Homo sapiens: one gene and its partner. The protein of the gene in region 1 purifies or fractionates together with the protein of each later gene. This does not show direct contact. Each region holds a gene or a part of one and is shown in the gene's direction. Other genes may lie near its edges. The genes, in order: CTNND2 and CDH8.

Region 1 (3,834 bases):
CATCAGAGACAAAAATGAAATTCAAATACTAGTTTGCAAATGCAATTTATAGTTTTGTTAAATAATTTCTAAGGATAATATTGCTTTCATAATAGTTTCTAAAATTAAAAATGAAGTTATAATCTCAAATATAATATTACTTTGGCATTTAGTTGAATATGCAGTGTATTTGCAGAAAATGTTACAGAACTTGCTCTTTTCTGTTTTGCCTTATCAGACTTCTTTCTTGTGTGGTATGAATTTGTGTGGACTTGTCGAAGGGGTTTTCAGAGTAATTTCATCAGGTTGTCTTTAAGAAAACATTAACATTACATTTGAAATAATTTATTGTAATTTGTCCATAGGGTCAGTACACTATGTATGGACCAGTGTATACAGCTGTAACAAGCCAATTGAATTAAAATAGAAACTGTTACATTTTGAACTTCCAATGTTTTCTTCTTTATGATTAGCCACAGAAAATGGGAACACCCATTTTTGTTTTTTCTCTGTGCGAACATTATTTTCACTTCTTAGAGGGAAATCCTTGATGCTAGTCTCACTTTTCCTAACAGAGTTTTTATTTTTAAAAGACTTAACATAGTTGGGAGTACTTAAACTTGGATGTCATAATTCAGACAATGAACAAAAACTAAGCATGGACTGCTAGTCATTTTCAAGTCCAGTACTTCAGCTGAAGGTGTGGTTCTTTGCTGGCTGATTTGCAAGTTGGAAATACACTGCCAAGCCAAATTCATTGTTGGCTTCCATGATGGTTTTCCTCATTCATCTTCTGAAGGTGTTCTCCTGTCCACAGTACTTTGATAGCCTTCTGGTGTGTGAAAAGTTAATTTGAGTAGGAACAGTTCATGATACTTGTTGCTAGCTTCAAGTTATCTGATTATATGCCAAAGCAACAGCTTTTTATATTAATATAAAATATTAAACATGTCATCAATAAATAGTTTCTATCACATTGTCTGCCAATCCAGCCTACTGATTAACAAACTGCCTGGTTGGGTTTAATAAACTCAGTTATAGTCACAAACAGTACCTCCAACACAGGGAACTCACAGAAATATTTTATCATACTGTGCTTTTTAGTCCATTAAATATTAAGACTCATAACAAAAATCTGCAGTTATGACACCTCCAGTTGTTTATCTTTTGATCACATAGCAGTTAAGTGCAATTCCAAGCTCTGAATCATGGTTAATTGATTTGTAGGAAGTGTCTTAGCTATGTCAGGATATTGAAGTACCTGTATCAATTAGTTTTTGACAAATTGGAAATAATGACTAAATAAGTGAAACAATGCTTCCTAGAACCTTTCTATCTTAGATAAATATTCACCTGTCTCTCTTGGCACATTACGTGCAAAATGAATTACATATATTGAAACATTTTATTGGGTTCTTATATATTATATATTACAATATTTTGTAATAAAGTTACACATACACACACACACAAACACGTTATATGTCAGAGCCCAACTATTTCTCTAGAAATATGTTTGTGATCTGAAATGACAATTATTGGAAAAATAAGTTTCCCTAGTGTAATGCTGTTTTGCATTCTGCTTCTGGTGGGTACAGAGATGTGGAGAGAGCACTGGCTTTTGGTGGATTCCAGCCCTGTCTCTTCTTAGCTGTGTATCCCTCACCATTTATGTGATCCTCAGTTGTTAACTCAGTTTCTTCAGCTGTAAAATGGGTAGAATAAGACACAATATCTTAAAAGATTTCTTTGAGGATAAAGTGAGTAAGAGCATGGATAAGTGGCTTGTAAATTACAAAATTTATGTGAACACAAGAAATCAATATATACATATTAAGACAGGTACTAATGTTTTATACATATCTAATTAAATAGGTTATCTAGGTTACCATCCTCTCTAACAAAGGATATTAAATGGCTGTAATTTCCCTACCCCAACCCCTATTGTAATATTGCTTCATTATGCAGATTTGCTTATAAAATATGCTAAACTTTCTATTCTGAAACATACCAGCCCTTTATATATTAAAGTATATAGCAGTTAAGCTAAAGGAGAAGTAAATTATATCTCCCAACACCATTATTATAAAAGATTCTAACCCAGTAGAAATTACAAAACTTTGATATTCTTTATTAGTGTTATATTAGTCACCTGATTAAGATCAAATTTTCTACAAAGATTAATGTTGTACAAAGACTATCATAGACAGTTTAATAAGCATCACTCTCTGTGAGGTCAGATATTACACATCCGCTCTGTTTAGAACCACCGAGCATGAATCTCATCATCATGTCATTATGATAGAGAAAAAAGAAACCTTAAACAGCTAAATGTATTACATAAAGGGAAGACCCCCTCCCCAATTAAAATCAAGTCCTTGAAGAGAACTAAAAAGTGTGTGAATTGGTACCTCTTTGAAAATAGATGGTCATTTTTGCTTTGTTTCACTCTTAAGAGCTTCAGTGAAGACAAAAAAGTGCCCAGCTCTTCCAGGTTGGAAGATGTCCAGCTCCTTGGGATGATCAAACCCAGAGGGGCTTCATTTAGAACTGTGATCTTCAGCAACATAATTTTTAGGATAATTACGATTCGATGTATCTTGGAATTTGTTTCAGAATGTGAGCTGTATAATGGGGGACAAATTTATCTTCAGTCAGAAAAACATTTTTACAATAAATGTGGTTATTTGTATTCAAATTTATGTGTTGTTGTGGGAACTGCCAATTATAAGTTACCAGAGCAAAATACATGTTATGATAAAAGGCCTTACTGGGTTTTTTTGTTTTTTTGGATCAAAGTAAGCAGGTGAGCCAATTATATTTGGTTAAATAAATATATGTAACATTTCTACAAGTTTTGAATGATACAGAAATGTTACTAAATAGGATGTTTACTTTATAACACTAGATGATGGGGGAACAATTAATTGGATCATTGATATTAGAAAATACACTTCTCTTGCCTAGGTAAAGGCCAGAGAAGTGTATTAGTAACATTTTTGGTTTAACAGATGTGATTATCACAACTGTCATTAGAAATTTTAAGAAAACTGCATTTTGTGCATGTTTTATGCAGTTCTTTCTTTTGGTTTAGAAACCTCCTTATAATGTACAAATGCTTTATTGTATTATCTCTTTGCATTTAAATATGCAATTACATAAACCACAGAAAGGTATATAGTTACTTTAAGAATTACAAAATGTGCAGGAATGTGGGTTGTTGGTGTCTTTAAGGAATCAAATAAATATCAAGCTCTCCTCCTCCCCACTCCCCATCTCAGCATGTTGGGATATTGGAAGGGAAAAAGATAAATAATTGGCTGCCATGGGCAAAAATATCAGTTTTGATTAGACATAGCTTGGTGTGGCAGTTGAATTACATCCCAGGTCCTCTGCCTTCTTTCCCTCCTCCCTCCCCACAGGGACAGAGCTTTTTCTGAGCTGGCAGAGCCAAGCCTTGCTCTCTGCAGGGAGGATGATCTCCAGAGGAAGAGAGAAGCAGCAAGGCAAGCTGCTTCTTTATTCTTCAGAGGCAGAGAAAGTGAAAAGCTGGAGAGAGGCCAGCAGTGTTACATTAATTAAGTTCCCTTTGCCTGAAAGGAAATATCAGAATAGAGAAGAAGTGTTCCCCATTGGCATGGTTTATGAAGAATTCTAGTTGATAGAATTCTGGATATAGTAGCTTTCACAGTACTTTGCTTGGTAGTTGAGCTCTTTAAATATTTCATGGTATTTTGACACTACATCAAGAGTTATCAAGGTAGCGTCTAATGCCCTGGTTGATTTGTAGCAACTATGGTCCATGAAATTCAGCAGATTTATGTATAGCCAACTTTAAAATAACTTACCCTTGGC
Region 2 (3,834 bases), on another chromosome or scaffold:
TTAAAAAGTGCTGTATATTTAAAAGCTGTTTTTGAATGGAGTCTTGAGAATTTACTTTCACTTACATTGGAACTGGGATTATCACAATGTTTTCAGATAGTTGCATATGACTGAATGTGATATGAAGTAAAAATGGTCACTTAATAGTGCCTCTTCTCTGTTTTAATAATTTTCGGATAGCTGGATGGTTTCAGTTTCTAAAATCAGTTCTGCAGATAGATGCTTTATCCCCGTCTTCTAGGCAAAGTAACTGAAACACAAATAAATGAGTGAATTTCTTCAGTTCATGTAGTTAGAGAAACCAGAATCTTAGCTTTGTGTTTTGTTCTTTCAAAAACCTATGCTTCGCCGGGCGAGGTGGCTCACGCCTGTAATCCCAGCACTTTGGGAGGCCGAGGTGGGTGGATCACAAGGTCAGGAGATCAAGACCACAGTGAAACCCTGTCTCTACTAAAAATACAAAAAATTAGCCGGGCGCCGTGGCGGGCGCCTGTAATCCCAGCTACTCGGGCGGCTGAGGCAGGAGAATGGCGTCAACCCGGCAGGCGGAGCTTGCAATGAGCTGAGATCGCGTCACTGCACTCCAGCCTGGGCGACAGAGCGAGACTCCGTCTCAAAAAACAAAACAAAACAAACAAACAAAAACCTATGCTTCTTTTTTATCATTAGTTACTTCTCTTAGTTAATTTTAACAGAAGGGAGCATTGAAACATAAAATTGTAATATCATTTAATAATCAGAGGCTATTGATAATTAGAAGAAAATATGGCACAAATAAGTTTTAACATAAATAATAATGACACCAAATGTAATAGTTTATTTGTTAATTAACAAAGTTTTGTGGACAAAAATGATACATACTGATCCCTTCTGTGTCTCAAGAACTCCTTGTATGTGAATGGAAACTTCCATGAATTATATATTATTCAAATTTTTTTAATAAAAATGCTAATGAAAATGTTAACATGTGCATAAATTAAAATGATCCTAAATTAGGATTAATATCACATTAATGAATTATAATCCCACATTCATTAAGATAAAGTGGCATTTCAATATTTGTTCATGTTAATACATTTTATACAATAAATGAAAGGGATACATTTTGAGAATCAATAAATATTTGATGTAATCTTATGCTTTAACTTTAAAAAATATTCAAAAGTAAAGTAGGAGATCTAGATGCATTTGGAATCTTTGTTGCTATTTTATGTCTTTTTTATAAGCCTTTCTTTTCACTTATTGAAGGGCTTAATACAATTTAAATTGTTGAAGAACGTGAAAGAGGCTGTTCTGAATAAAAGGGATCCCAAGAGAACACAGCATCTTTTGAATTTCTAGGAGTTTCTTTCCACAAGGCGGTTTTTTTTTTTTTTTTTTGGAACAAATATTTGAAATCTCAACTGGAACTATATTGGCAGTTAAGTAACTGAGTTAAACTGAAAATATGTACATTGAAGTAGTACATCGCAATGGGCTTTTCTTTTAAAAATTCAAACCCCCAAATACATATATTATTGTTTTATTTTATTTTAGTTTTTTAAAACAGGAGAGACACCGTGTATAATATTAGAATACTCCTGTCTCCAGCCTGAGAGAAAATTGTCAGAACCTTAAAACCAGGGATTCTGTTTTCCCTGGTACCTACCAAAATGTTTTAGGCAGACTATTTGCCTGACACACAAATTCAGTAAATATTCATTGCTATGACCAAAAATGGATTTGGGTTCATGGTGAAAAGTTGTCATTTTCTGAAGGGGTTCCATTTCTGGAAAATGTACTCCTAAATTCTGGCCTCAGTGTTCTTCTCTATAAAATGGGAATGATTTTCCTGGACTAGACGAATTGTCAGAACTAAAGGAAAAAAGACTTTCAAAAACATAATATCTTAATATCAGTCAATATATTAGAATTACTTTTGTTTGTATAAACATCACAGGCAGATCTGAGTTGAATTCTGGATCTACCATACTTGAGTCTGTCAAATATAAACCTTGGAGAGGTAAATATGTGCCTCGTTCAGCATCAGTTTTCTTATGTGTCATATGAAATATTCTTAACCCAGTTTTTTAAATAAAAAGGATATGATTATATGAGAAGTGATTCACCTAGTCCTGGGCATACAGATAGTGACCCATAAAAGGTGACTAATCATAATAATTTAAGCAAATGTAATAAATGGAAAATAACACATATATTTTTGTATTTTTCTCCTTGACCTTTTTATCATTCTAAAAGCATGTTGTTTTATACTAAACAGGCCAGAGTACTTTTTAAGGACTGTTCTAACTTATTTAGATGAATTTCATTATATTTTATTCTTAATTGATATCCGCACAGCTGCATACACTTTGTACAGCTACTATTAGCAGAAATTGATGATGTTATGTAAAAAGAACCAACTTAATATTCAAAAAGGAGGTAGTTAAAAAAATAACTTTTCAGATTGCTCCATCACTAACTAATGCCATTTTTCATTTCAGCTACACACAGACCTGGATCCTGGGAGCAAAAAAATCAAGTATATCCTATCAGGTGATGGAGCTGGGACCATATTTCAAATAAATGATGTAACTGGAGATATCCATGCTATAAAAAGACTTGACCGGGAGGAAAAGGCTGAGTATACCCTAACAGCTCAAGCAGTGGACTGGGAGACAAGCAAACCTCTGGAGCCTCCTTCTGAATTTATTATTAAAGTTCAAGACATCAATGACAATGCACCAGAGTTTCTTAATGGACCCTATCATGCTACTGTGCCAGAAATGTCCATTTTGGGTATGTATGCTTCCAATTTCACAGATCTATTAAAAGTCATCTTTAGAATAGCTCCTGGCATCAAGGATGGTGTATTGCTGAATGAAAGACATTTATTACCACCTTATCTCTAATTTGCATTTCCAAATCCCCCTTTTTGGCCTAAGTTCCACAGCTCAGTAGCTTTAGTCCCTTAGTAACAGGAACTGATGGAAGAGCAATTTTATTAAAATATCTTTCCTTACATGACAATACTTCAATAAGCTGAATTTGTATTCCTCTCATAGACTTGTAGTTTGAGTATTGTTACTGAGGCAGATTTATCAAGATTTGTTCTAACATGCCAAGCTAATCCTGTTGATATTTGCTTGATGTTTAATTATTTGTTTGTGTATATTCACATGCAGATGCAGCACACAGAGAAACAGAAAGTCATCTAGGTCTGTAGTCAGCCAGATATTAGGTTGCTCTAGTGGTTCATGTCTAGGGTGGATTAGGCAATCGACATTACCAAGGGCCTCTGTATTTGTGTCCATCTTAACAACATTTTTTAGGAGTGACTGCTAGTACCATTGACCCACTCTCAATTTTTCTGAGTCATTGAAGACTCCATCACATATTACAGAGCAGTCTGTATTTCAAACATGATTTTATTCTTGTTTCTCCCTCTTTGGAATCTGCTTATCTATCCCTAAACCCCTGCCATGATGATAAGAAACCCCTCAACCCAGACATTCTATAATAAAAGGAAGGATTTTAGAGCTCTTCCTTGTATGATAAAAGTAGTAGGCAGAATCTAAAGTTCAAAGTATAAGATTACAAAAGCCATTTTTTAAAATGTGTAGTACATATCCAAGTTTGTTTCAAGTTGCATTTAAGACAGCCTATAAGGGTGCATGCTATGTAGTAAAGTCACATAGCTTTGAAGCAGGTGAACAAGGTGAGACAAATAAACACAGGTAGAGATAAATTGGAAGCCAGAATTTGGTAAATACAGACATGTATATTCATTATTTAAAGCCCCCAAACTTAACATTAAAGGAACTGCGAGAAAAAATAAAAAAAAGAAATATGATC

The links.
Region 2: the proteins of CTNND2 (region 1) and CDH8 purify together in Homo sapiens (co-immunoprecipitation; one large-scale study listed by IntAct). This does not show direct contact.

Annotation. Positions count from the first base shown.
Region 1 is NC_000005.10:11,897,631-11,901,464, reverse strand, and holds part of CTNND2 (catenin delta-2), read left to right. Parts: intron 1-3,834. UniProt on the Homo sapiens protein: Has a critical role in neuronal development, particularly in the formation and/or maintenance of dendritic spines and synapses. Involved in the regulation of Wnt signaling.
Region 2 is NC_000016.10:61,900,123-61,903,956, reverse strand, and holds part of CDH8 (cadherin-8 isoform 1 preproprotein), read left to right. Parts: intron 1-2,483; coding exon 2,484-2,778; intron 2,779-3,834. UniProt on the Homo sapiens protein: Cadherins are calcium-dependent cell adhesion proteins. They preferentially interact with themselves in a homophilic manner in connecting cells; cadherins may thus contribute to the sorting of heterogeneous cell types.